2 separate regions of the Homo sapiens genome follow, and region 1 is linked to region 2. The links come from fine-mapping of genetic effects on plasma protein levels. A gene starts in region 2. The other region holds a variant in brackets. All regions are shown on one strand. Distances are from middle to middle. Region 1 overlaps FN1 (fibronectin 1). Region 2 holds the start of FN1 (fibronectin 1).

The links. PIP is the posterior inclusion probability: the model's chance that the variant is causal. The UK Biobank Pharma Proteomics Project read protein levels with antibody pairs (Olink). The fine-mapping took linkage between variants from a reference panel, not from the people measured, so its PIPs are less certain.
Region 1: its variant is fine-mapped to the plasma level of the FN1 protein (UK Biobank, PIP above 0.99). The variant lies in the coding sequence of FN1. If it changes the protein, the assay may bind it differently, which can mimic a change of level.

Annotation. Positions count from the first base shown.
Region 1 is chr2:215,410,712-215,427,058 of GRCh38, forward strand. It overlaps FN1 (fibronectin 1), which reads right to left. Exons shown (of 46, transcript NM_212482.4): 7 at 14,383-14,574; 8 at 13,435-13,614; 9 at 12,639-12,815; 10 at 11,380-11,532; 11 at 9,962-10,090; 12 at 8,531-8,674; 13 at 4,126-4,247. Among named protein-coding and RNA genes, the nearest start is that of FN1-DT, 17 kb to the right of the region's middle. RefSeq lists silencers at 175-469, 9,835-10,129 and an enhancer at 12,611-13,810. The variant C/T (reference allele first, on the strand shown) is at 8,575.
Region 2 is chr2:215,431,265-215,440,007 of GRCh38, forward strand. It overlaps FN1 (fibronectin 1), which reads right to left and starts at 4,804. Exons shown (of 46, transcript NM_212482.4): 1 at 4,391-4,804; 2 at 3,432-3,560; 3 at 2,060-2,197; 4 at 569-700. The coding sequence starts at 4,538. FN1-DT (FN1 divergent transcript) reads left to right here and starts at 4,427. Exons shown (of 2, transcript NR_187198.1): 1 at 4,427-5,045; 2 at 5,655-7,681. RefSeq lists an enhancer at 2,116-3,315 and silencers at 4,828-4,887, 4,898-4,987.

The DNA of each region.
Region 1 (16,347 bases), 17 kb before region 2:
GGTCAGGCTGGTCTCGAACTCCCGACCTCAGGTGATCCACCCGCCTCGGACTCCCAAAGTGCTGGGATTACAAGCGTGAGCCACCACGCCCACCCACACCTTCACTTTTACCAAGTTAATTGTGTTATATCAGTAACATAATATGATGAACCTAAGCTTTGCCTCTCTCACTTATTTTTTATTCCTACCACAAACAGATATATTCCTCTCTGAAGTACAGAAATGCCAATGCCATATATTTTATCTTTTAACTCAGTGGGATACAATTCAAGTTTCTTGTCCTGAAAAAACAAAGGCAGAATGTTGCTTTGTGACTCATCATATACCAGGTTCAACGAGTCTGGTTTTGTGACTCATTCTTGGATATGAGCTACCCCATCAGAAGTGGTTACCCAATTTTGGACAAGACTACAGAAAAAATGCAATTTTGGTTTATTTAATCTTTTGCTTCCAGTTTATATTTCACATCCTGTTCAGCTTCATTAATATGCCATGGGTCACAAAACTCAGTGCAATAAAATGTGTATGAAAGAAACACCCTTCAGAAAAGATGAGACTCTTTCAAGTGTAAATACTCTAAACTAATATAAGTCAAAATATATTTTTTGTGCCCAGTGATTTTTAAAAATTACCCAGTCAACCATTTCCTCAATAATTCAAATACTCAAGTGTCCATTTATATTTTTGGAATAAGCGAGAGTGATCGTAGTACTCTTCACAGTGAAATTTTAACTCAAATACACTGTGGAAAATTTTGAAACCAGTCATTGCAATTAGCTCAAATTTAGTAATCATTTTTCAACATGAGCTTGTTTGGTTAGTTATTACAAGAAAATAACAGAAAATAAAGTCTCAGGTGGCATCCATTAGAAAAAACCCTGAATTTTTGTAATTGTTAAAAATCTCAAAAAATTCATCACTGCTGCTTTTTGAAGACTTTCCAATTCAATGTACTTTTTTTTTTTTTTTTTTGAGATGGAGTTTCGCTCTTGTTGCCCAGGCTGGAGTGCAGTGGCGTGATCCTGGCTCACTGCAACCTCCGCCTTCTGGTTTCAAGCGATTCTCCTGCCTCAGCTTCCCGAGTAGCTGGGATTACAGGTATGCGCCACCATGCCCAGCTAATTTTTTTGTATTTTTAATAGAGACGGGGTTTCACCATGTTGGCCAGGATGCTCTCGATCTCTTGACCTCGTGATCCGCCCACCTTGGCCTCCCAAAGTGCTGGGATTACAGGCGTGAGCCACTGCGCCTGGCCCAAAGTACATTTTATACCACTTTTAAGTCTCCCATTGCAATGGTCTCACATAATACTTTGGATATCCTTAATTTTAAAGTAAATAAAATTAATGATGTAATAAGAAGATGAGAGACTAGAAGATATTGGATGCACTGATGCTGTTGATTTCGATCACTGGACATCAAGTTCTGCAAATGGCCAGATTATGGACATAGGGTGAAAGAAGAAAAAGAATGACTTTTCTTTTTTTTTTTTTCATTCACCATTTGTTAAGCAGTGTGCCAGGTGCTGAAGCATTCTAGACTCTACGGAGACTACATTGAGCCAATGAGAAAGACACGATTCCCCTCTTTAAGGGAATCTGTTTCCATTTTCTATTATTCTGGTCTTGCCTCCATGTAGACAACATGCTTACACCTCTATTTGTTTCATTTGTCAACAATAAGTCATATTTACAGAGTCTTTAATATGAGACTTGATGATTTATTTATATATTTATTTATGTTGACACAGGGTCTTTCTCTGTCTCCCAGGCTGGAGTGCAGTAGTGCCATCTTGGCTCACTGCAACTTCCGCCTCTCAAGCTCAAGCGATCCTTCCGCCTCAGCCTCCCAAGTAGCTGGGACTACAGGTGCATGCTACCATGCCCGGCTAATTTTTAGCCACTGTGCCCAGACAAAGTTGAGGATTTAGCTCAATAATACCACCCTTTCCTTCCAGAATCTTGGACATTCCCAGTGTCTGACATTTGTATCATTATATTTGTTCTTCTTGTGTTTATATTTGTAATTTAAAGTATTATATTAAGTATCTTTTTTTTTTTTTTTTTTTTTTACTTCATCAGCTTTTGGTACCATCTCTCAATTCTCTATTTTGAAAGATAAAGCTGTTATCTCCTCTCTTCTCCACCTTCCATATCCACCATTTTTCATGTAAATGTTTACTTTTTATTTTGTCTTGAAGTTGCAACCAAGTTTCCATGACACATCTATAGACCGATCGCATCATGCATTAGAAATACATTCTTTTCAATGAGTCTAACATCATGACTGCTGGGTGGATCAAAGTTTCCAGAATCAAGGTTCAATGGAATTATTCCTCTTTGTTTTTATACCTTAATATTGCTGCATTTTAGTTTGCTTCGTATAGGAATTATTGCCTTATAATACACTTGGGGGTTTTTTGAAACAGAATCTCGCTCTGTTGCCCAGGCTAGGGTGCAATGGCGCGATCTTGGCTCAACTCCCTGCAACCTTTGCCTCCTGGGTTCAAGTGATTCTCCTACCTCAGCTCCTGAGGAGCTGGGACTACAGGCGTGCGCCCCCAAGCCTGGCTAATTTTTGTATTTTTAGTAGAGACGGGGTTTCGCCATGTTGGCCAAGCTGGTCTCGAACTCCTGACCTCAGGTAATCTGCCCGGCTTGGCCTCCCAAAGTGCTGGGATTACAGGTGTGAGCCACTCTACCCAGCCACATTTGGGTTTATTATACATTCCTCCACCTGATTGTCATGTTGTTATTTTAACTGCATTATTTGCCCCTGTGATTAATTATCCACAAGCCTACTTTTTCCATGAAGTCCCTTTTTATTCTTGGAGACCTCAATCCCTGATCCCTCAATCCCATCCTCATCTTTCTGTTCCATCTGTATTGGCTGTCCTCTAAGCCAGCTACGCAGTTGTTGCATTGCAAAGTTTTCCACCTCTATCAGGGGTCTGATTTGGAAGCACTGTTTGCTGGACCCCACAACTTCCTTCATATTTCACTCTTGTTTTTCTGGAGTGTATCTACAAATACCCTTAAAGAAAAGGATATATGGAAGATAAACTGCCTAAAATCTGTCTGAAAATATTATTTTGCCCTCATATTTGATTGATAACCTGGCTGAGTATAGAAGACTTTAAAAGTTTCTTTTTATCCTTGGAACTCTGACACATCAAAGATGCGTCTAGACGTGGTTCTTTCCACTAATTTTCTGGGCACCTAGGAGGCCCTTTTAAATCTGAAAAATTCTGTCCCTCCACTTTAGAAATTTAGAAAAAGAATAATTTTAACAGCTTAAATTTTTCCTGAAGAGTTTAAATTTAACCGCCTGGGTTGGTCAAATTTTGTTTGTTTGTTTCTTTGTAATTGTAGAATTCAATAGCTATGATTTAAAATGGACATTTTTTTCTCCTGTGTTTAAAACAGTGTTTCTCAAATTATGAGCCATGAACTTTGGAGTTAAACAGGGCAGGCTTGAGAGAGTAAGAGAAACTAAAGCTAAATTGACCAATATCCTCCTTATTTGGTTTCTTCAATTTCTAGTCACTTCTCATTAGGAAATCACAGGGCTATTGTTTAAATAAAACCAACTTCCATCCTTTATCTAAACTTCCCTCCCATCATCTCTTTTCCTTCTATCTAAATAAATTCAGTGGGTCAAAAGTAAAGTTTTAAAAATGATCACTTAAAAAGTGAATCAAAAAAGAAATATATTAATTTGGCTTTTTTTTTCAAATTATGAAAATGATGCCAGTAATTTTCCTTTGATGAGGTTGCAAGACATATAAAAACCTTAGATTCTCTTCCCACATTGGGCAAGAACAATCTTAAGCATTATCATTTCTAAGTCCTTGCAAAAAAGATTTCTGTAACATAAAGAGCTAAATTCTTCCAAATACCAGCCCCCCCACCGCAAAAAAACAAAACCCAAAACCAAAACCAAAATCCCCTCAGTCTACAAGTCAATTTAATTGACCACATATTGTTTGTTCACTAAACAAATATAGTAAATGCTATAGGAATAGTTAATCAGAGTTGTTGGCTCAAAAGCTGGGAAAAAAAGAAACCATCAGAATTGATAAGATTAGGAGACTCAGTATCCAAGGTTTCTGGGTGGGATACTCACAGGTCTCCACCTGAGAATGTACTTGGAAATGTGAGATGGCTGTGGTGCATTCCACTGGATGGGGTGGGAGTTGGGCTGACTCGGAGTCTCAGTGATAAATACTTCGACAGGACCACTTGAGCCTGAAAATGAAAATGTAGCATTTAATTATCTTGAATATTCACTCACTTCAACTTAAAACTGTGTACATGGACAGTCATCATTATAAACAGCTTTGCTTGTCGTTAAATGTGAGTATAATAAAATTATCTGGCATTAATCTTTTAAATATTTACGTTGAAAATCAATGCAGCAAATCCATTTTTAGCCGATAATTATTATTCTTCACATGAGAAATGCAAATCATAGTTGTTTATAGCAAATAAAATATATTTTTAAAAAAAAGTCTCTTGGCTTGCTTTTATTTTCTCTACTATCAAAGTAAGAATTGTGAGAAAATTGTGAAACGATCCTACAAAAATAATGTAATACAGAACACAGACTTCATTTACTTATTGTATTGAGCCTCTTTTAAAGCAAATTCTAATTTTGGAAGGTTTTCATCAAGAATGAATCTACTACCTAAGAAGGAAACAACATTCCAAAGGCCATATGAGATGATGTAAAACAAACACATTTCTAAATGGGGGTAGAATCTTAGACAAATAGCAAAGGTAATAATTAAAGACCTAGTTTTATTTCTCATCAGTCTAAGCAGTCTATCAGTTTGGAAAAAACATCAAGTTTTATTTTTATTCAAGAAGTTTACTCCCAAATCACACCATTGATCCATCAAATTATTAAGTGATTAAATTTATTTTTTTTCCAAAATCAGTTGTCAACAGAAATGACTTTATGAAGTGTATACTAAATTCAGTATTTCTACACCTTGATGTATATCACTGTTATCAACAAAATTTAAAGTATGGTTTTGGTTCTTTTGTTTAAAATAAAAGGAAAATAAGGGAAGTAGCATCAATTTCTAAGTAGTGTTAACTCCATTTAAGATAATAATGAAATAGCTAGAAAATTTATGCTTGCAGAACAGAAAACTATCTTTTCTTAAAACACTATCTTTATGATGTCAGTCAATGTTTAAATTACTAGAAATAAAAATTGTGTCTTATAGTAACCTTTTCAAGAATTTCTAACTGACACTCTGTCAAACAGAGCAAAATTTTGTATGTGTAATAAAGCACTTCACCAGATTATTAACAGATTTAAGTTTTCTGAAAGCTTCTAGGAAAAAAAATACATTGATTTTCAAACTTTATTATCTAAGCCATTAAATTCTCTTGGAAAACAAAGCTTTCTGTAGCAGAAAAAATATATAACTTGGATATCCATGTAGATTCAGAAATTCTAAAACAATATGCTCACTTCCACACCAGTAACAATTCAAAGTTGGTTGAAGATTAGCAAATACTTTGAATCTTAATTCCATTTAATGCACATATTTCCAAGCCACATGAACACCAAAATTCATGCATAAAATTATGAGTTTTTCATTTTAAAGTTGTATGTATTTCACAGAACACACAGGATGTTTGTTTTAATCAATTGGCATAAGTCAATTCCATGCCTATCTTTGAATTACCCCTTCTGTTTATGAAGATCCTTACAAATGTAAACACATTTTTAAAGACAACTATTCAAGAAAAATTTTGGAGATGTGACTATTTAACGTACTTCCATGTAAATCAGGAAAGCTAGGAATATCATGTCCTTAATTATTTATGATAATTGGCATAGGGCTATTTAAATATTGATCCTTTAAATAAATCCTACTACAATTTCCTCCATAAAGAGACACCTGATATACACTTTATTTAGTCTTGTCAATCATGATTTTGAGGGGGGACAAGCTTATGATGGATAAATGTCTATTAAGTTTTGAAAAGATAACATAAATGACCTTTACTGTTCACCTCTAAGCCTAATCATATTTCTATGTCCACAAGGACACAAGGAGGAGGATAAAAATGGGCAGGGAAAGGAAAGAAAAAGGGTACAGCAGTGGTTTTTACTCAAGCCAAAGTGGAGTACAACTACAGAGGTCCCTTTTGCTTTCATAAGATTTCGAGCACTGGTGTGAAATTCCACGTTTTAAAATCTAGCCCTGTGGCATAGCCCACCTTTAAAGGAAATGGACTGAACAGCATGGAATTTAGCATGTTTTTGTTCAGGAAGTAAAGAGACTTTGTGTCAGTTATTTCTTAGATCAATTAAATTCCTATATTCTAGCTTATACTACGTATAATTACTCTAGCTTATACTATGTATCCTTTAAAGACAGAAAAGTTAAAAATTATGACATCTTTTACATTATTTAGATTTAAACTTTTGACAGTCCTTTTTCGCTACTGGTAGTTGGTATAACTTTTTAAATTAACTTAATTGGCATATACTAGCTATCGCCATTGTGAAATCTTTACTCCCTCTCTTATTCAATATGAATAAACTAACAATAAAATAGTTGAGATGATACCAAAAAAAGGAGATAGTACAATGTCTACACTTTTAAAATTAGTTTCAAATAAAGTCTAAATGAATAATTTCCAATAGTAGTGTCCTTGGAGAAGTTAAACATTTATGATTTTTTGACTCAGTCCTTTTTTTCTCTATTTATTTTGCTGAGATCTGTGCTTTTCTAGTTGCTTATTGACAAACCAAATGCCTCTTATCTTTTGCTAGTTTGAACAACTCTACCAAGTTCTCTGTAGGAGGAACAAACAAGGCAGGACTCAGAGACAATCTGTTGGTAATCTGCTGTTCCCTTATTCTCACCACACTCTTAAAGCCCTACGTGCTAGGCCACGGAGCAAACCAGACATACAGATAAGCACCAAAGAGCATATCTGAGGTCAAATTCCAATCTCTTCCCTCCGAAATCACCTCTATGCTCAGTGGGATCTTGCTGTTCTCCTTTTTAAAGAGTAGGAGTAAGGTCAACATGTAATACTCCAATACTCAAGGATTCCTTCCTTTCCAGATTTTATCTCCAACATGTCCACCTAAATGCTTCCAGCAAGCAGCTATGTGGACAGCCTTATGTTGAGAGAGACGAAGATCTCTCTCAATCATTCAGAAGGAAATCATTTTCAGCAAATTGCAACACCAATAACAATCATAAATATAGAAACCACAGAGCATTTTTTTAGAAGTTTCTACCATTTAAGTATCATTTGCATCATATAAACAAACAAACCATTCATATACTTATAGTACTTCCACAATCAGATTTAAATATATATTAAGTTACAAAAAATTAAGTGATTCCTACACCTAAATCCTCCAAGAAATACAATTTAGGAGGTTGGTCAATCTGTGCTATAAGCCTTCAAAAGTGAAGTCACCTTCCCCAGCACTGACAGTGTCTGAGGGTTGGGAAAAGCAGAATCTTCCAAGTTCCTAGAAAAGGTGCATCTGGGTGTTTAGTATTTAGGATGGAACATTAAAGGTAATCAGCTACAATCTTCCCATATTACAGATGAGGAAATGGAGGAATGAGGCTTGGCTAACACTACCTTTGGCCAAGTTGTTCCCATAGCTTGTTCTCTGTCACAGTGAATCTTTTATCACAGAGTTAATCTTAATTTCTGTCGCATGCAGATTCTGACACCCTGAAACTCTTTTGTTTCTGAATGTAGGCCATATTTTCAGTCAAACGTTAGTGAAGACTTTGGAGACTTTGCACCTCAGCAGTTGCTCAAATAACTGATGCCTTTTAATTAGCCTTTCATGTTTTATTAACATGTTTTATTATAATCACTCAGTGAATATTTAAATGCAATTTTCCCCCCAAATGAACTAATTACACCTACAGCTAGGCATGATGTCTTTGTGACCTGGAAAAACCCAGCAATAAACATTTGAGAGTGTTTGAACTGTGTGGGCAGAGAGTTGACCAAGTTACTCAACCCTTGGCCCAACATACTGTGTTCCTGGTGGCAACTGATCAAACAAATGAAAAGTTTGATGCAAAGGGAGCTTAGATGACATGTTGAATGAACACGTACCTTATGCTGCATTTCATGCCATCTCTCTATGCAGCTTCTCTGTTAAGAATCATAATATAAAGCCCCAAACCTTTACTCCCAGCATAACTCACTTGGTGGTTTTTATTTCCATGTATGGATATAAGATGAAATTAGCCAGAGTGTCTTAACCTAACAGAATATTTTACAGAGTTAAGAAGTAAAATTATAAACAGGCACATTTTCATAGCCTTCTCTACCTTTTACTTGATAGAGGAAGAGAGAAAAATTATTTTAATCAAAAATTCAATTGATTATTAGATAATAACAAGAGAAAAGGGTGGGAAAGAGGGGAGACCCCCAACTTAGGCATGAGAGCATTAATAATCACTGCCCTGTTGTTATAACCCAATTGGCAGTTCTCAACTTGCAGTAATAGAGCTACTTACTTGGATAGGTCTGTAAAGGTTGGCAATGCCACTCCCCAATGCCA[C/T]GGCCATAGCAGTAGCACTGGTATCTGACACCATGCACATACTTCTCCCATGAATCTCCAATTTGATAAAACGTCCCAGTCTCTGAATCCTGGCATTGGTCTAAAATACATGGAAGGAAAAGATAAACAGCCTTGAAGACTTATAACTACGAATTTAATTTCAGGGTGCTAGAGCATACATTTAGCTTAAATAGAAATTTGCAATTGTTCTTACAAATATATGCAGTTAAAAAAATATTTTGTTCACATTCTTTACCTTACAGGACAGTTTGTAGTAAAAAAAAAACCAAAGTACCTATTAGGAGGAATATTTAGTTTTCTAAAAGGTAATATTTCTAAATAAAAATGTAAAGATTTAGATTTCAGTGTATATTGATAATCTACACATTAATTTTAAATATTAGTTATTATTTTTACCCATATTAATATAACTGGCTTAACATTTAAATAGCAAGAAAAAAATCTGCAATAATTTCATTTTCCTTACTTCTTCAAAATTTAAAGAAACTGTTTGACATTTAAATGAATGAACTAGACTTTACGAGTATACCTGCTGAGCAGCTTCTAAGAAAACCTCTCAGGCTTCTCTCTCAGTTCTGGTAATCTCACGTCAAACAAACGGATGTTATCAGTTTGTTTTCTCAGTGAGCAACCTGTCTCTTTTGGTAAAGAAATAGTAATGGATCACCTTAAACTTTGTAGTGCTGGTAACACAGCTCTTTTAAGGCTCAGCCTTCACTATTTGCTTAGTTCTATTTTGAAGGGCGGCCAAAAAAAAACCTAGAGTGTTTTGGTGGGTGATATTTACACCCTTTGCTCATGCTGTTACACAGCTGGTAAGGAAGTGAGTTTGAGACCAGCCTGACCCACATGGAGAAACCCCATCTCTACTAAAGATACAAAATTAGCTGGGCCTGGTGGCGCATGCCTGTAATCCCAGCTACTCAGGAGGCTGAGGCAGCAGAATTGCTTGAACCCAGGAAGCAGAGGTTGCAGTGAGCCGAGATTGTGCCATACACTCCAGCCTGGGCAACAAGAGCGAAACTCTCTCTCAAAAAAACAAAAACAAAAACAAAAACAAACAAAAAAAAAAGGAAAGAATACTTTTAATAGCATGGATTATCTTTATGATTCTAAACCCAAGAATAAATTCCATTCAATTAAAATAAGCCTAAATTTGTCACCAAATTCAGCAAAAACCAGACGACTACCAATATCGAGATATTTTGGTCCAGTATTAGAGAGAAGACTTTGCAAAGTTCTTTGCAAGCAACTGATCAAAGTCTGGAGCCAACTTCAGTCATGTGATTTCACATAGCTTTTCTTATCTGAAACTTGCTAACCATTCCCCCTGTGCAAACTCATCTAGGGAAATAGGGCTACTCACCGACGGGATCACACTTCCACCTGCCCCGACCCTGACCGAAGCATGTACAGTTCAGCATGTGCCCCTCTTCATGACGCTTGTGGAATGTGTCGTTCACATTGTAAGTGATGTCATCAACAATGCACTGATCTGTTTAGGAAACAGGTGGGTGAGTGAGAAACTTTTTAAAGTTCCATTGATGAAAGAAAAAAGGTATGCTTCTCAAAGCATACAACTACTTCCACTTAATTATCAACACCTTCCACTAAAATAACTTTTCTACAAGCATAGAATAACATTTTTTTCAAAGTTTGGTCAGTAATACAATTTTTGCCAAAAAAATTTTTTTCTTCCCAAAATGTGTAACTTTTGCAGAGGTTACAGTATGCTCAAGTAAAGAATGTGGTAAAATACACTTTCCTGTGAGAAGCCAGTATTTGAACAAATACATGTCTTACTTTCTGAAAATTTCTTGCTTAGTTGATAATTTCCTTTAAATATCTGCTTGTTAGGATAAATAAGAAGAAGATTAAACATATTTATCTAACACCCAGCATGATGTGGTGGTCTGGTCTCTGGAATAGGGGGAAGGGGAGGAGATACTTAGATTTGGGAAATAAAATGTCAACAGTATTCACAACGCTAAAATAAATTAGGCCAACTCTGTTGCTCACTCTTTGAGAGATCCTGAGAAAATTACTTTTTCCTTTTTGGGTCTCAGCTCCTTGATCTATATAGAGTGAGGTCTCTATGTGTTATTAAGGTCTCTTTCAGTTCTGCAACACCACATGTAATTATTACTCCCGGATGGTGTTACCCACTGGACACCACAAAAGGAGAACAAATTCAGACCAATATCTACGCACTAGCCACATAGATTATTAATAGCTCAGGGTTCTCCCGAAATATTACTTTTCATATCAAAGAAATGGAAAACTAAAACACTTTTAAAAAGTCAATACTTCCTCATATTATATAGCTGGGTGCAAAGGAGAAAAACTAATCTGAACAAGGAAAGTTAGTCCCCTATGTATTTGTTTCCTGAAATCTGGATCTGTAAGGATCTGATTTTAGAATAGCAAGGTCTTCATTTCTTTACAGAAATTATCCTATCTTTTCTAGACATGAATCCAGTGGCATAGCCTAAAGCTGAATGGATCAAATGTTTCATTCTTACTTTTGAAGCCATCTTTTTGGCTCAGCCTAAGTACTTACATGCTAGGAGTGTTTCAGAACATTAGCATTGCTATGCCGCTTGTCTTAGCAGGCTGCCTGCTAAGCCTTTCAGGCTTATCTTACCATGCACAGTAGACTAATGAATGACGTGGCATTCCATATTTCTTCCCCTGCTTTTGGCATAGTGCAAGTTTTCATAAAAAAAAGTGTCCCTTTCTGTACCTTTTGCCATCTCAAATATTTTTGTTAATCAGCCAGCATACCTCGAAGCTGCGAGTAGGCAATGCATGTCCATTCCCCACGACCATTCCCAACACACGTGCACCTCATCATGTGACCCATGTCATGCTGCTTATCCCACTGATCTCCAATGCGGTACATGACCCCTTCATTGGTTGTGCAGATTTCCTCGTGGGCTGTTTGGAAATGGATAAGAAATGCACTTGATAAATGATCACCAGGTCTAAACATGTATGTGTGCAAAAGGATCAGTTCAGTTTGGTCATCCTAAGAATTCTCACTTGGGAAGAAGCTTTGTGTGCATCAAAGACATCTAAGTGCTGTCAGGTGAAGGGGTAGAATTTTTGAGCCCTGGAGGCAGAAAACGTAGTCCAAACGTGTCATAGAAAATAGTTACAGGAAGGGTTAGGGGATGTTAAACTAAGATAATATCTACACATCCACACAAAGGGTTCTTGCTGTTCTAGAAGCCTGGATTTAACTACAGCTTCATAACTTTTCCCAGTTCCAGTTTATTCTGGATCAAATAAAAACTATGGGTTTGGATATAGAATTACAAGCAAAAGTGGGTTTTTTCTTCTAAACTCAGCATCTTCTTTTGTTGAAAGAAATAAAAGTATAAGCAATTTCTTTGTCTCATAGTCACACTTGACAGTGCCTACCGCCCAGGCTCTTGTTTCTACAACTGGAAAATTAAAGGGAATCTATGGGGTTCTTGAAATCTGAAAACAAGTAAAAGGTATTCGTTTCCATTTGTTCGCCATCTATACAAACTGGGGACCTTTAAAAAAAGAGTGAGATTCCCTACCTGTTAGAAAACATTGAGTTTTAGTCACTTTGGCACTTATTAATAAGTGATAGAGCTTATGCCCATCAAACCACAACCATGTGTCAATATTGTAGCTCTGTGACTAAAGCCGTCATACATATATTAAATGTTGTAAGCTACTCAGTTGTGTGCTCTTTACAAAGACAAACCTGTGCAAATTCATATTTCCAGACTTACAAATAAGTAATTATATTTTTGACATTAAATCATGTCAATGAGGTTTAAAAATTATATAAATAATTATCTAATTATTCTTCCCAATCCTTATGTATATGATGTAACATCACACACACACACACACACACACACACACACAAACACACTTCACATGAAGTTTTCTGTTGTCTCAAAATTGTGTTAATGAATGAAATGGGAGTAAACTGGACACTAGTCTTTAGTCTCTACTCCCTAAATTGTTGTCAAACAAGACAACCCACAAGGGCTTCATCTTACCAGCCATGGGGCAGAACCCAAACTTCTGGTCGGCATCATAGTTCTGTGTGGTCCCACACCACTTCATGTTGTCTCTTCTGCCCTCAGAAGTGCAATCAGTGTAATTGTGGTTGTTGTATAGGAAGGGGAAGTGGCACAAGGCACCATTGGAATTTCCTCCTCGAGTCTGAACCAAAACTGCCAGGAACAATACACAACAAAGAAGGAAAAGATTACCGCTGAGCTTTCCAATGTACACAGAATTACTGGTCTGAGAGAGCCAGGTTTCTGCAGCTCATTCACAGACAGTCTATCTCAGAATAAAAAATGTCTGATAATATAGTTCTAAGCTTCTTAGCATATTTACCTTCACACCTTCAAAACAGGTTTAAATCCCACTTTCACTGTCATTTCCCCAGCACCCCCCCCACAAAAGATTAAATGATAGCTTTGAATAAAACATTGTTTTAACTGGAAAATAAGCTAAGGCACTAAAACATTCATCCTTTGTATTCCTCAGCCCTGTGGGATCATCTACTGATTCCAAAATACAAGTATCTTTAATCACATCATAATCCCAATGTGTTAAATCAAATGAACTGGAAGGCTACTCCCTTGGTGTCATTTCCCAACAGTACTGGGGAAGATGGAAGAATCCTCAGCTGTTACGTGAGCGCTGCGATCTCTTGAGTCCAAACTGAACAAAAGCGATGCTTCTTGGGCGGGTTCAAAATAAATGGCTAGAATGCTGGCAAATAAAACTAGGGCATGAAAGTGAGTTTTTCTCACTTCTGTGGCTCCCCCTTGGGACACTCACCAGTGTGGTCTGTGCAGAAAGAGTATTTCTGGTCCTGCTCATAATTCGAAGTTGTGCTGCACCAAAGATGTCCGTCCTGTCGCCCTTCTGTGGTGCAGGAGTAGAACGTCCTGCCATTGTAGGTGAATGGTAAGACACATGGCTCTCCATTTGAGTTGCCACCGTAAGTCTGGGTTACAGCTACAATCATAATCAAAAGAGTGTCAGTAAACAGAGATGCTTTATCTCCCACCAGCAGCTGCTTATTTATGGCTTCAATGAGATACTGAGCTTGTGCCCTCAAAGGAAGAAGCTATGAGTATAGATGATCATCTCGTTAATTTCAGTCAAAATGCATTACTCAGGAATCCATGTCTACTGTGGATAGAACGACACCTGAGTTCTTCTGCTGATGTCCTTCATGACCACTTCTGCTGCCATGCCTCAGTTTCTCTATTTGTAAAGCTATATTTATACAGGTCAATTAAGGATGCTGCTTAAGGATGTTGGGATAATATTTATGACTATATCTATGCCATAAAATTAATATATGAGACTATTCTGGGGGAGAATTGTGTAGCAATTGTTATTGCCATAGTGACTACCATGTTTGTAGTGCAGAATACATATATTAGGTTATTGGAAGATGTTTACATCACAAAGCTGCTGAAATTTGAGATTTAGAATATAAAACATTGATGATTATTCAGAAAGTAGCTCTCTTGTAACAACACTTTAGACAGATAAATACAATAAAATTTTTACCCATGATATCCATGACCAGAAAGAAAATACATAAATTAAAAAGATTGGAAGAAACTATTTCAAATGCCAACCCTAATTGTTATCACAGGGTGGTAAGATTACAGGCTTCTTGTTTGTTTTATTGTTTCACATTGAAAATGTATTGTCCTTCAAAAACTAAATAATAAAGTCATCAGTCCTATTCTTCAAAAAGATAATGCATACCTGTCTCTTGGCAGCTGACTCCGTTGCCCAGGCACGTGCAAAGCATTTGCTTATTTCCTTGTGTCTTCAGCCACTGCATCCCCACAGAGTAGACCACACCACTGTCTGTGACACAGTGGCCATAGGGAGGAGGCTGGGGGTGAGGCTGCGGTTGGTAAACAGCTGCACGAACATCGGTGAAGGGGCCAGATCCTAATGGCATGAAAAGGGAATGTCACAAAACTGGGTGAGAGAAGACAATTCACTACTTTCTGCAGTCAGGATCTTCAGGATCTCACAGAGATCACTCTGAAATCTATGTCGCTACTGGCCTGGGACTGGAAAAAAATGTCCCTTATTCAGCAGTAGCTTTTGCATTTAGCCTAGGAAATAATCCACAAGTGTCTACCAAGTGGTCTCCATCCTCCAGCTCAGCTGGGGCTACTGGGATTATATTTCTTTTTGTTTGTTTGTTTTTTGGTTTTTTGGGTTGTTTTTGAGATGGGGTCTCACTCTGTTGCCCAGGCTGGAGTGCAGTGGCGCGGTCTCGGCTCACTGCAACCTCTGCCTCCTGGGTTCAAGCTATTCTCCTGCCTCAACCTCCCAAGTAGCTGCAATTACAGGCACGCACCACCATGCCCAGCTGATTTTTTTTGTATTTTTTAGTAGAGACGGGGTTTTGCCATGTTGGCAAACTCCTGACCTCAAACTCCTGTCTCAAACTCCTGACCTCAGGGGATCCACCCGCTTCGGCCTCCCAAAGTGCTGGGATTACAGGCATGAGCCACCTCGCCTGGCCGGGATTATATTTCTCAATCACAGACATCATCCTGCCACTCCATACAGCAGATACCTTCAACACATCCTCACTCTTCTGAGTAACCGAGCTCATCAGAGGGTGCCTTCAGCAGCTGTCCTGGATTTTCTGGAGGTCACCTCCACCTTCCACATTTTATTTCTCCTCTGGATTATTTGTGATTCTATTGTGTTTTTTCTAAAACCAATTGATCCTCTTAAGACAGCTTTCCTTTCAGAATAACACAACAGGATGTGTTGATCTTTTCTTTTTTCTTTTTTTTTTTTTTTTTTTTTTTGAGACGGAGTCTCACTCTGTCACCCAGGCTGGAGTGCAGTGGCGCAATCTCGGCTCACTGCAAGCTCTGCCTCCCGGGTTCACGCCATTCTCCTGCCTCAGCCTCCCGAGTAGCTGGGACTACAGGCACCCGCCACCACGCCCGGCTAATTTTTTGTATTTTTAGTAGAGACGGGGTTTCACCGTGTTAGCCAGGATGGTCTCGATCTCCTGACCTTGTGATCCACCCGCCTTGGCCTCCCAAAGTGCTGGGATTACAGGCGTGAGCCACCGCGCCCGGCCGATCTTTTCTTTCAACTTTTAGATATCTGTTCTCTTGAAGGCCAGGGCCCACCGCAGAACAGAATCAGGGCTGAGGCTAGACCAAAGGTACACTGAATTCAGTGCCTCCCTAAGTGCTGCTGAACACTAGAACCCAAAGATGTTCACAGACAAAGAATCCCAAGGTCAAACGTACTAGGGAGACATGGCGCCCATCCCCTACACTCTACCATGGAGAGTATGATGTAAAGGAACACACAGATTCTGCAGAGCAGGTTCCATTTTGTTTAACCCATTGCTTCTCAAACTTTTTTGAACAATGGAATCTTTTCAGTATTGGCAATATTCATATATAGCTAACATTTATTGAGTGTTTATCCCCATTTAATTCCCACCTACACTTTTAATCTATTTTGGTAGACTGACATTTATAATTTTTTTTATTTTTTATTTTATTTTATTTTTTTGAGATGGGGTCTCGCTGTATCACCCAGGCTGGAGTGCAGTGGTGCGATCTCGGGTCACTGCAAACTCCACCTCCCGGGTTCATGCCATTCTCCTGCCTCAGCCTCCCGAGTAGCTGGGACTACAGGCGCCCGCCACAACGCCTGGTTAATTTTTTGTATTTTTAG
Region 2 (8,743 bases):
GGAAAGCAAAACAATACAAAACAAGACAAAAACCTCTAAATTAGAAGACAAGTAAACAGAGTAAAATTTATAGCCAGAAACTTTCAGGCTTGTACTTACAAAATTCAACTGAGGATTGAGATCCAAAGAAGCTCAACAACTTTTAATTTGAAAAGAAATGAGCAGAGTGTGACAAGCACACACTATTTCATGTTTCGGTCCAGGACATTCCATATAGAAATGTGTCCAAAGTGTCATTTTTTTTTCTTTTAAATAAATTATATCTTGACGAAGGAGGAATCTGAGATCAGCTATTAGGTAAAAGAAATGACTCCATTCTAAATCTTTCAATTCTACCTTATGCTTTTGAAGCAAAGTTAAGACTTCTATGTGTAGTCAGTACTTTTTGATCTAACTCCTGTAAGAAGACTATGGATTATATAATAATTCATTATTTCAAACAAAATTCCCATTTCTTTATTGGTTTTCACTGGAATTCAGGTCTATGACCTATGTAGATGTGATTCTGGTCCAACCCCACATTAGAACTAAGCATCCCAGCTCTTGCTCAGCCCTAAGACTCACACACCTATGGGCTTGCAGGTCCATTCTCCTTTTCCATTACCAAGACACACACACTCTAACATGTAACCACCAGTCTCATGTGGTCTCCTCCAGGTGTCACCAATCTTGTAGGACTGACCCCCTTCATGGCAGCGGTCTGTTGAAGATACAACGAAAATGTTAGGAGAGGGCAGAACAGATTTTTTTTTTTGGTCTCATATTCCACCCATGGTAGGTACTTAGGTTGGCTAAAGTAGAGACACAGACAACAGCTTTCCCATCAGAGACAGGGGAAACGTTAACAGGTCTGGTCACTTGGAGTCAATTCAGTTAAGTGTCTTGCTTAGAACACAATGGAAAACCACAGAGAAATCTGGATGGCAAGGAAGAGGTCATGAATCCTGCTTTCCCAGAGAGATCACAGGAAATTGGGTCCTAAGCAGAAAAGAAAGGCTGGGAGGCTTGGTCTTCACTCATACACAGCAGGCTAAGACTGAGACTAATTCAGTGAAAAGGCCACATCAGGCACAGCACTCCAGCTTTTGGGAGCATGGAGAGCCTGTATTTTACCCTAGGATAGAAATGTCATTTTGGTGGAAAGCAAACAGACATATGCATATAAAGTGTGGAAATCCTGGTAGTTTTCTAAGTTGTTAAGCCCAATGGCACATTCAAATGCTGAACTAGATTGTAAACACTATGGACCCTTGCCTCTTGCGATTTGCCTGTGAACTTGGATAAACCCTAACATGAAATATGGGGAAAGTTGATTGGGCCTATTCACACGGGACTTGTTCTTTTGAATAGAAGTCTTTAAGACGACTTATATTTAAAGAATGGATTAAAAAACTTAAATACTATCTTAATAGAATCTATTGGTAACCCAGTGAATCATACTGGAAAGAGTGCCTTAGCTAAACTAGAGTTGAGAATCAGCCCGGTTCCCAAAGTTCCTTAGCAAACTCTATTGGGTTAATAATTTTGTATTATCCCTAGGAATAGTGACATCTGCTTCCTGGGTATAACCTACTGGTCACCAAGAAACCAGACTGTTTCTGTGAGGTGCAAGAGGTCTCTGCATTGCAAACATGAAGACCAGACAACACATGGCTGGTTCACTCTTCATGAACACCTTCCCAGTCACTGCAGAAAAGTCTCATGATTTGTCTAGCTTGAAGATATCCAGGTGATTTAAAATGGGCAACTCCCCTAAGCATGTCTTACTGAAATGGAACCCAAGAGGTCTCTTGGTTCTACTATGTACAGAAACACACACACTCATAAATGCACACACACTCATAAACGCACACACATCAAACACTGATTCCATCTGTGCTCATACCCGTCTTTAAGAAACACAGGAACCAGTTGGGTGACCACTTAAGAGTACCTGGTCACCAGGGGCAAACCTCAAAGTTCGGAATATCCAGTCATGGATAACAGAAAATGACAGTGATGGTAACAGAGAAATTCATATTTGATATTTTGGCATCATTTTACACAATCTCTTCCTTACTTGCGATGGTACAGCTTATTCTCCCTCGCCCAGCCCCGATGCAGGTACAGTCCCAGATCATGGAGTCTTTAGGACGCTCATAAGTGTCACCCACTCGGTAAGTGTTCCCAGTGTACTTGTCAAAGCAAGTCTCTTCAGCTGAGGGGAAAAGGAAAGTCCATGTGAGCCTCACTTAGGTACAAGCTTTTCTAGTTCACTAATCCCCTCTAAAGGAAAACCCACTTCTCTATTCCACAAGTAACATGGTACACCTCAAAGAATAAAATGAAGTGAGAGATACAGATTTTTATCCTAAGCTCTAATAAGGCCATGGTTTTTGACCTTGACATATTGTCAAATTTTCTGTAAATTATTCATATTGTAGAAAAATCTCAGGCTCTTAGGAAAAGGCCATATAAAGTACTAACTTATGACAGAGCTAGATTTGTGAAGGGTTTCACATTCCAATCTCTGACTCAGAAAGTCAAAGCAAGGTTCACATAAAAAGCAAACGATTGGCCGGGCACAGTGGCTCACGCCTGTAATCCCAGCACTTTGGGAGGCTGAGGCGGGTGGATCACCTGAGGTCAGGAATTCGAGACCACCCTGACCAATACGGTGAAACCCCGTCTCTACTAAAAATATGAAAATTAGCTGGGTGTGGTGGCATGTGCCTGTAGTCCCAGCTACTCAGGAGGCTGAGGCAGGAGAATTGCTTGAACCCTGGAGGCAGAGGTTGCAGTGAGCTGAGATAGTGCTACTGCACTCCAGCCTGGTGACAGAGCAAGACTCTGTCTCAAAAACAAAACAAAACAAAAACAAACAAACAATTCGAAGATCCCCACCTCCCACAAGGCCTTGACAGTTGTTAATCCTATGATTTCCATTTTCCCCTGATCAGTGCTTCTCTGACAGAGTTGCTATAATTTATGAGAAAAATATCATTGGTCCTAAAGGAATGAGAACTTTGAAGTGGCTAATGGTTTTGTGTTAACTGCCGCTGACAAATCATTTTACGATGTAAGTCCCCAAAGTGTTTTCTGGCTCATAAACTAACAGTTTAAGATTTGAGACTGCTTTCTAATAAATTAAAATTTTATAAGCAATTTTTTTTGTCGGAGGACACACAAAATCTTTCATTTTTCTCATCAAAAACTTTGGGAGAGTAAAGCAAAAAGAAGACTCTAGGAACTAATTTGGGAAAGATTCGTTTCTTTGTTTTAAAGGTAAAAGCATGTGAAAAGCAAATATAAGCAGTTTTTAAACTTAAGAGGAAATGACAGGTAATTCTATTAGAAAAATGGTGTATGTATTTTTACTTACTAATGCAAAGTTTAACAATTACCACTTCATGTATTAAAAGATACTAACTATGGGGCTTGTTGTCACTTACCTTCAGGTTTACTCTCGCAGTTAAAACCTCGGCTTCCTCCATAACAAGTACAAACCAACGCATTGCCTAGGTAGGTCCGCTCCCACTGTTGATTTATCTGATAGTGTTTTCCATTGTCATAACAACCGGCTGCAAATAATTGAAGGAAAACGTTACATTTGCATTTCTCCTTTTCCCAAAATTATGGAATTTTCTTCATGTGAATATTGACGTACATATTTTTTTCCTTTTAACTTTGCTAAAAGTTATATACAATGATGTCATTTCCATCTGGCCAGGGGTCTACATAAAAAAGTTGGAAACATTTTGGAAGGCAGACAATTGAAGTCACATTTTTAAAACATGCAAGGAACTTAAATATTCTTTTGGAGTAATAGTCAAAAAGGACAACTTTAAGCAGCTTTCTCAAAGCAAAAGGAGGGTGTGTCTTTGAAAAACGGAAAGAATTCCAACCTCTGTTCTTGGTGAAGTATCCTGAGCGGCCCTAAAGAGGTCTGAACCAATTACATCTCTTCCAAGTTAGTTAGAAACAAGACAGCTATTTCAATACCCCCTTTCCACCCCCATGTTGAAAATATTTGACCAATTATTTAACAGAAGGAAATAAGTAGCAGTAAGGACCACACTAATCCCAGACGGAAAATTTATAGACATGCATCATTTTTCTCTTTAAAGGCAAGTTTTGGTTAATTCCTAGAAGGACAATCTGAACGTGCAGAATTTATTAGAACACGGGAAAGTCGCAGAGTCCTCGTCCTCCAATGCACGGTCTTATCATCCCAGGCCCTCAGAACCAGCGTGCTCAAAACTCGGTCCTTTTGTGTGCACAGCTGGTTTCTCTCAGTAAAGCGCGCACACACTCGCACACACGCGCGCGCACAAAACTTCAGCCCCAACTTTGGTCGGCTTTAGGGTCCCATCCCTGAGGCAGCCTGTTTCAGCCCGCGGTCAGTACTCACGCTTGCTTTGACTGACAGCCACCGGGGACTGGGGCTGAACCATTTGCTGAGCCTGCCTCTTGCTCTTCGAGGCTCCCGTGGAGGGCACCGCTGTCCCCAGGCACTGGACGGCCAGCAGCAGCAGCCCGGGCCCCGGACCCCTAAGCATGTTGAGACGGTGGGGGAGAGACGCCCGCACCGGGAGGCAAGTTGCCACCAAGTTTGCTTCCCTTCGCAACCTGCGGGAAAAATCCCTTCTAATGCCTCCCGGGGGTTGTCGCCTCCAAGAAGGTGGGGGCCAGAGGGTGGGGAAGGGGACGGGTGGAGGGACAGAAGGGATGCAGAGGACCAGAGAAGTTGTGGCTGCAGGTCCCCTCTTCCCGCTCGCGCCTGGGGTTCCCTCTCCTCCCCCTGTGCAGCACAGCCGGCGCGGGCGTCCGAGCGCCGGGAGCCGGGGCTTATATGGGACGGTCCCCTCCCGCCCCTCTGGAGGCCCGGGGCGCGGGGGAGGAGAGACCCGCCGGGCTGTCCCCGCCCCGCCCCACCCCACCCGCCCGCCCGCCCGCCGGCCGCCGCAGCCGACCGCGCGCCGATTGGCCCGGGCTCCGGGTGACGTCACGGGGGACTGTGGGTTCGCAGCGAACAAAAGAGATGCTGATGGCCCGCCAGGACTGGGGCAAGACAACTTTTTTTCGGTTTCCTTTGCGGTCATCAAACTTTTTAGGGGATGGGGGAAGGGATGGGAAGCGGCTGGGAGGAAAGGGAGTGGCTGGACTTGTGTGAAGCGAAGGGGTTGCAAGACGCTCCCCCTTCCCTTTTCTTTTTTATTGGGGGTGGTGGTAGTGTTTGAGGACATTGCGTCACCTCTCTTCGGGGTGGAGGGGGGGAATCTCTGCTTATAGGAGTGTATTTTGTGAGGAAGAAAACCCATAAAATATCCACGACCTTGCAGCTGTTAAGAATCCAGACTTTTCAGTCCCAGGGCGGGGCTGCCTTTCCCCCCATCCCGCTCCCTTTCTTTGGACTAAAGGGTACTGACTCGGGACTCCCTTATTTTGTCTTCACAGCTCCCTGTTCGGACTTCTTCCCTTCTCAGCGCTGTGCCTGTCTGGCTCTGAGAAAGGGCCAGCGGGCGAACGGGGAGCAAAGGGGAACAGAGACCTTTAATGAGCTTCTACTAAGTACCGGGAGTTCCGCGGGGCGCTTTGCAGATCCCGGGGAAGTTCAGAGAATGAAGTTTTCTTTTGCAAGGACAAAGTAACAGTTTACTTTTTTACACATGCAGGAAAGCCTTCCTTTCCTGGGGATGGGACGCCCGTTTCCACTGAAAGTGAAATCACTGTGAACAACCTGAAAATTGGAAAGTTGGACCAGCTGTGGGGAGAGAAAGGTCTTCGTGTCCTTTCCCACGTTCACCGTGCCAGTTACACACAAAGCAGAGATTTTTTTGCTTGAATCATTAAAAGCCGGGTGGGTGGGGGGCACCCTATGTACTGTCTTGCCCTCCTTCGGCCCCTTTCTCACATTTATTTGCCATTTTCTTTTTGCTGACAAGTTCCATTACAGAATGCCCCCTCCATCCCCCGCCGCCAGATTTTTTATATTTCAATTGTTATTTACTCCAAGAGTGTGGAAAGTTCTCCTTTAAGATTCCCCCGCCTTGAACTCTAAACTCAGAGTGGAAAGGGAATCTGAAAAGTCTCTCATTTAGCAACACATCACATCAGTCCTTTTTGTCAGATAAACACAGGCACAATTGCTTTTAAAGATCTTCAGAAGGAGGAGTCCACCACTTCCACAGTAGATCCAGAGAGACCCGAACTGAATGCTTTGCCTTCTCCTTGTGTTAGGAGTTCAGAGGTTCCATTTGCTTTAAAACACAAGAAGCTACTAATAAAATATATTTATTTCGGCAAGGTACCTATTTTCTCCAAAAGTTTCACCTTCAGTAATTGCCACAGGAGTAATTAGAACTCTGTGTTCTATAAAATGCCTGACACATTAAAGACACAAAATTAGCATTTGTTTTTATTCATGCAAGGATTTAAAACCAAACCAAAACAAAGCAAAACACCCAGCAAATATCAGTTTCCTACAAATAGTGTAAAAAAACCTCTTGAGGAATCTTTGTGACCCACACTCCAAATTGAAAGAGTGCCATGGATTTCCCCAAATTTAGAATCCTGTCTGGGTTAGAGGATTTTTTTGGAATTTCTCATCACTTGACAAAACAGTTTTCTCTTTTCAAATATAAAAGAGCTCCTTGTAAAATGCTTGGTAAATTTCTGGGAAGCCGAGTGTTTCTTCCAGAGGGAAGGATACCTGGAAATCCGGATGTAAGCAAGATAAACCTGTAGCTAAAGCTTTCTTAAAATTCATTGATTCTGGGGGAAGGAAATAAGTGATTAGAAAAGTATTTGGTCAACCAAAACCATGATAGTTTGATATATTTACTGCACTGAAAATACACTAGAATCATATGCATAGTGGAGCTTGAAGTGGAAAGCCCACCTTACATTTTGGAAGAAACTTTTATATTTCAATCCCATAGATATCTAATTTATTTAAGGAAACAGGATATCTCTGTCTCATAAGAAAAAAAATAACATCTGACTGATTTTTATAGGAATGCTTGGGAGTTTACTCTTTTACTTGAAAGGTTTTTTTTTTTTTTGCCTTTTTTTTTAAACTTTAGAAACAGAGGCGTTTCTTAGTTAAGATAACAGGGCTTACTACAGTATTCTTTAATTATCAAGGTCCCTTGTAACTCTAAGTCTGTTATCTCTAATTGGAGAGATAATTAAATCTTAAAGACCACTCTGACTCTAATTCAACCAACGTGTGTGGTGTCCAGGATCGTTGGACTTCCTTAAGAATTCTATTTTATCCAGGTGGGTTCTTCCTCAGTAAATTGTATTCTCCTATTGGTAGGAAATACTCTTGGATTTCTTTCTTTCTTTCTTTTTCTTTCTTTCTTTCTTTCTTTCTTTCTTTCTTTCTTTCTTTCTTTTTCCTTCTTTCCTTCTTTCTTTCTAAAACTGTATTCAGAGAGAGAAATGTGACAAAAAAAGGGAAATCAATAGAGACAGAAAGTAGATTCATGGGTACCCAAGTTTATGGGCTGGGAACAGGAATTAACTGTAAAAGGGCACAGGGAATCTTATTGAGGTGATGGAAATCTGTGTTCTAAAACTACATTGCAGTGATGACTGTACAATTTGGTAAAAGCTTCAAAATTCTGGGGATTATACACAAAATGAGTGAATTTTACGGTATGTAAATTATGCTTCAATAAAGTTGTTTTTTTCAAAAGTTGATTTTAAAAATTAGTATTTGTTCTTTTTTACTCTTAACCATCTCCTGATTTTGGTTTCAAAGACTTGCTCTCAGGTAGCAGCAACATACACAAGGCGTCCTCATTTCTTCATTTTTCTGAGAGGAAGTTTGCCTTGAATATAGTAGTGGATTTCTTCTACACCAGTAACTCCTTCTGAAACCTACTATTTGTGTGAAGGCATATATGTGGTAGAGACAGAACAAATCTTCATTTAGGACTGTGCCTTGTTTCTTCTTGGAATTGCCATAGTGATAGAATTTTCCCAGAGCCTCAGGCAATTTAAACTTTTTGTAACAAAAAGAAGCACATATATTTTCGGGAACTAGGGGGGTGTGGGTGGCGGGGGGCAATGGTATTGGGAAATTTTATTATTCCAGAAGGTTAAGGAGGAGCATGAGCAATTATGGAAATCTGAATTAAATTGATTTCATTTGTTTTGAAGATTAGCAATGGAGACATTTGATTAAGCACAAAAAATAATTGATCAGATCCAGTCATTTAGAAGGACTGAAATAAAAACAGGCTAGGTGTGGTGATTCATTCCTGTAATCCCAGCACTTTGGGAGGCCAGTGTGGAAGGGTCACTTAAGCCCAGGAGTTCAAGTCCAGCCTGGGCAATATAGTGAGACACTCTTAATAATAATGATAATAATAACCAGATATGGTGACAGGCACCTCTCGTCCCAGCTATTCAGGAGTCTGACATGAGTCCTGGGGGATGACTGGAGCCCAGAAGATCGAGAGATCAAAGCTGCAGGGAGCTGTGATCACACCACTGCACTCCAGACCCAGCCTAGATGACAGAGCAAGATCCTGTCTCAAAAATTTAACATTTAACATTGAAATGTTAAATGTTAAAGGTTACATTTAAATATGTCACATTTAGATGTTACATTTCAAATGTTACATTTAGGTGTAACATTTAATTGATGGGCTGTTTTTCCTGAAACCTTTGGCTTTTATCCTGTTATTAATTTCTTCCAGTTCTGCTAGAGAGGAGGCCATTGACTCTGGAGAGCTCGAACTTTCATTTCATC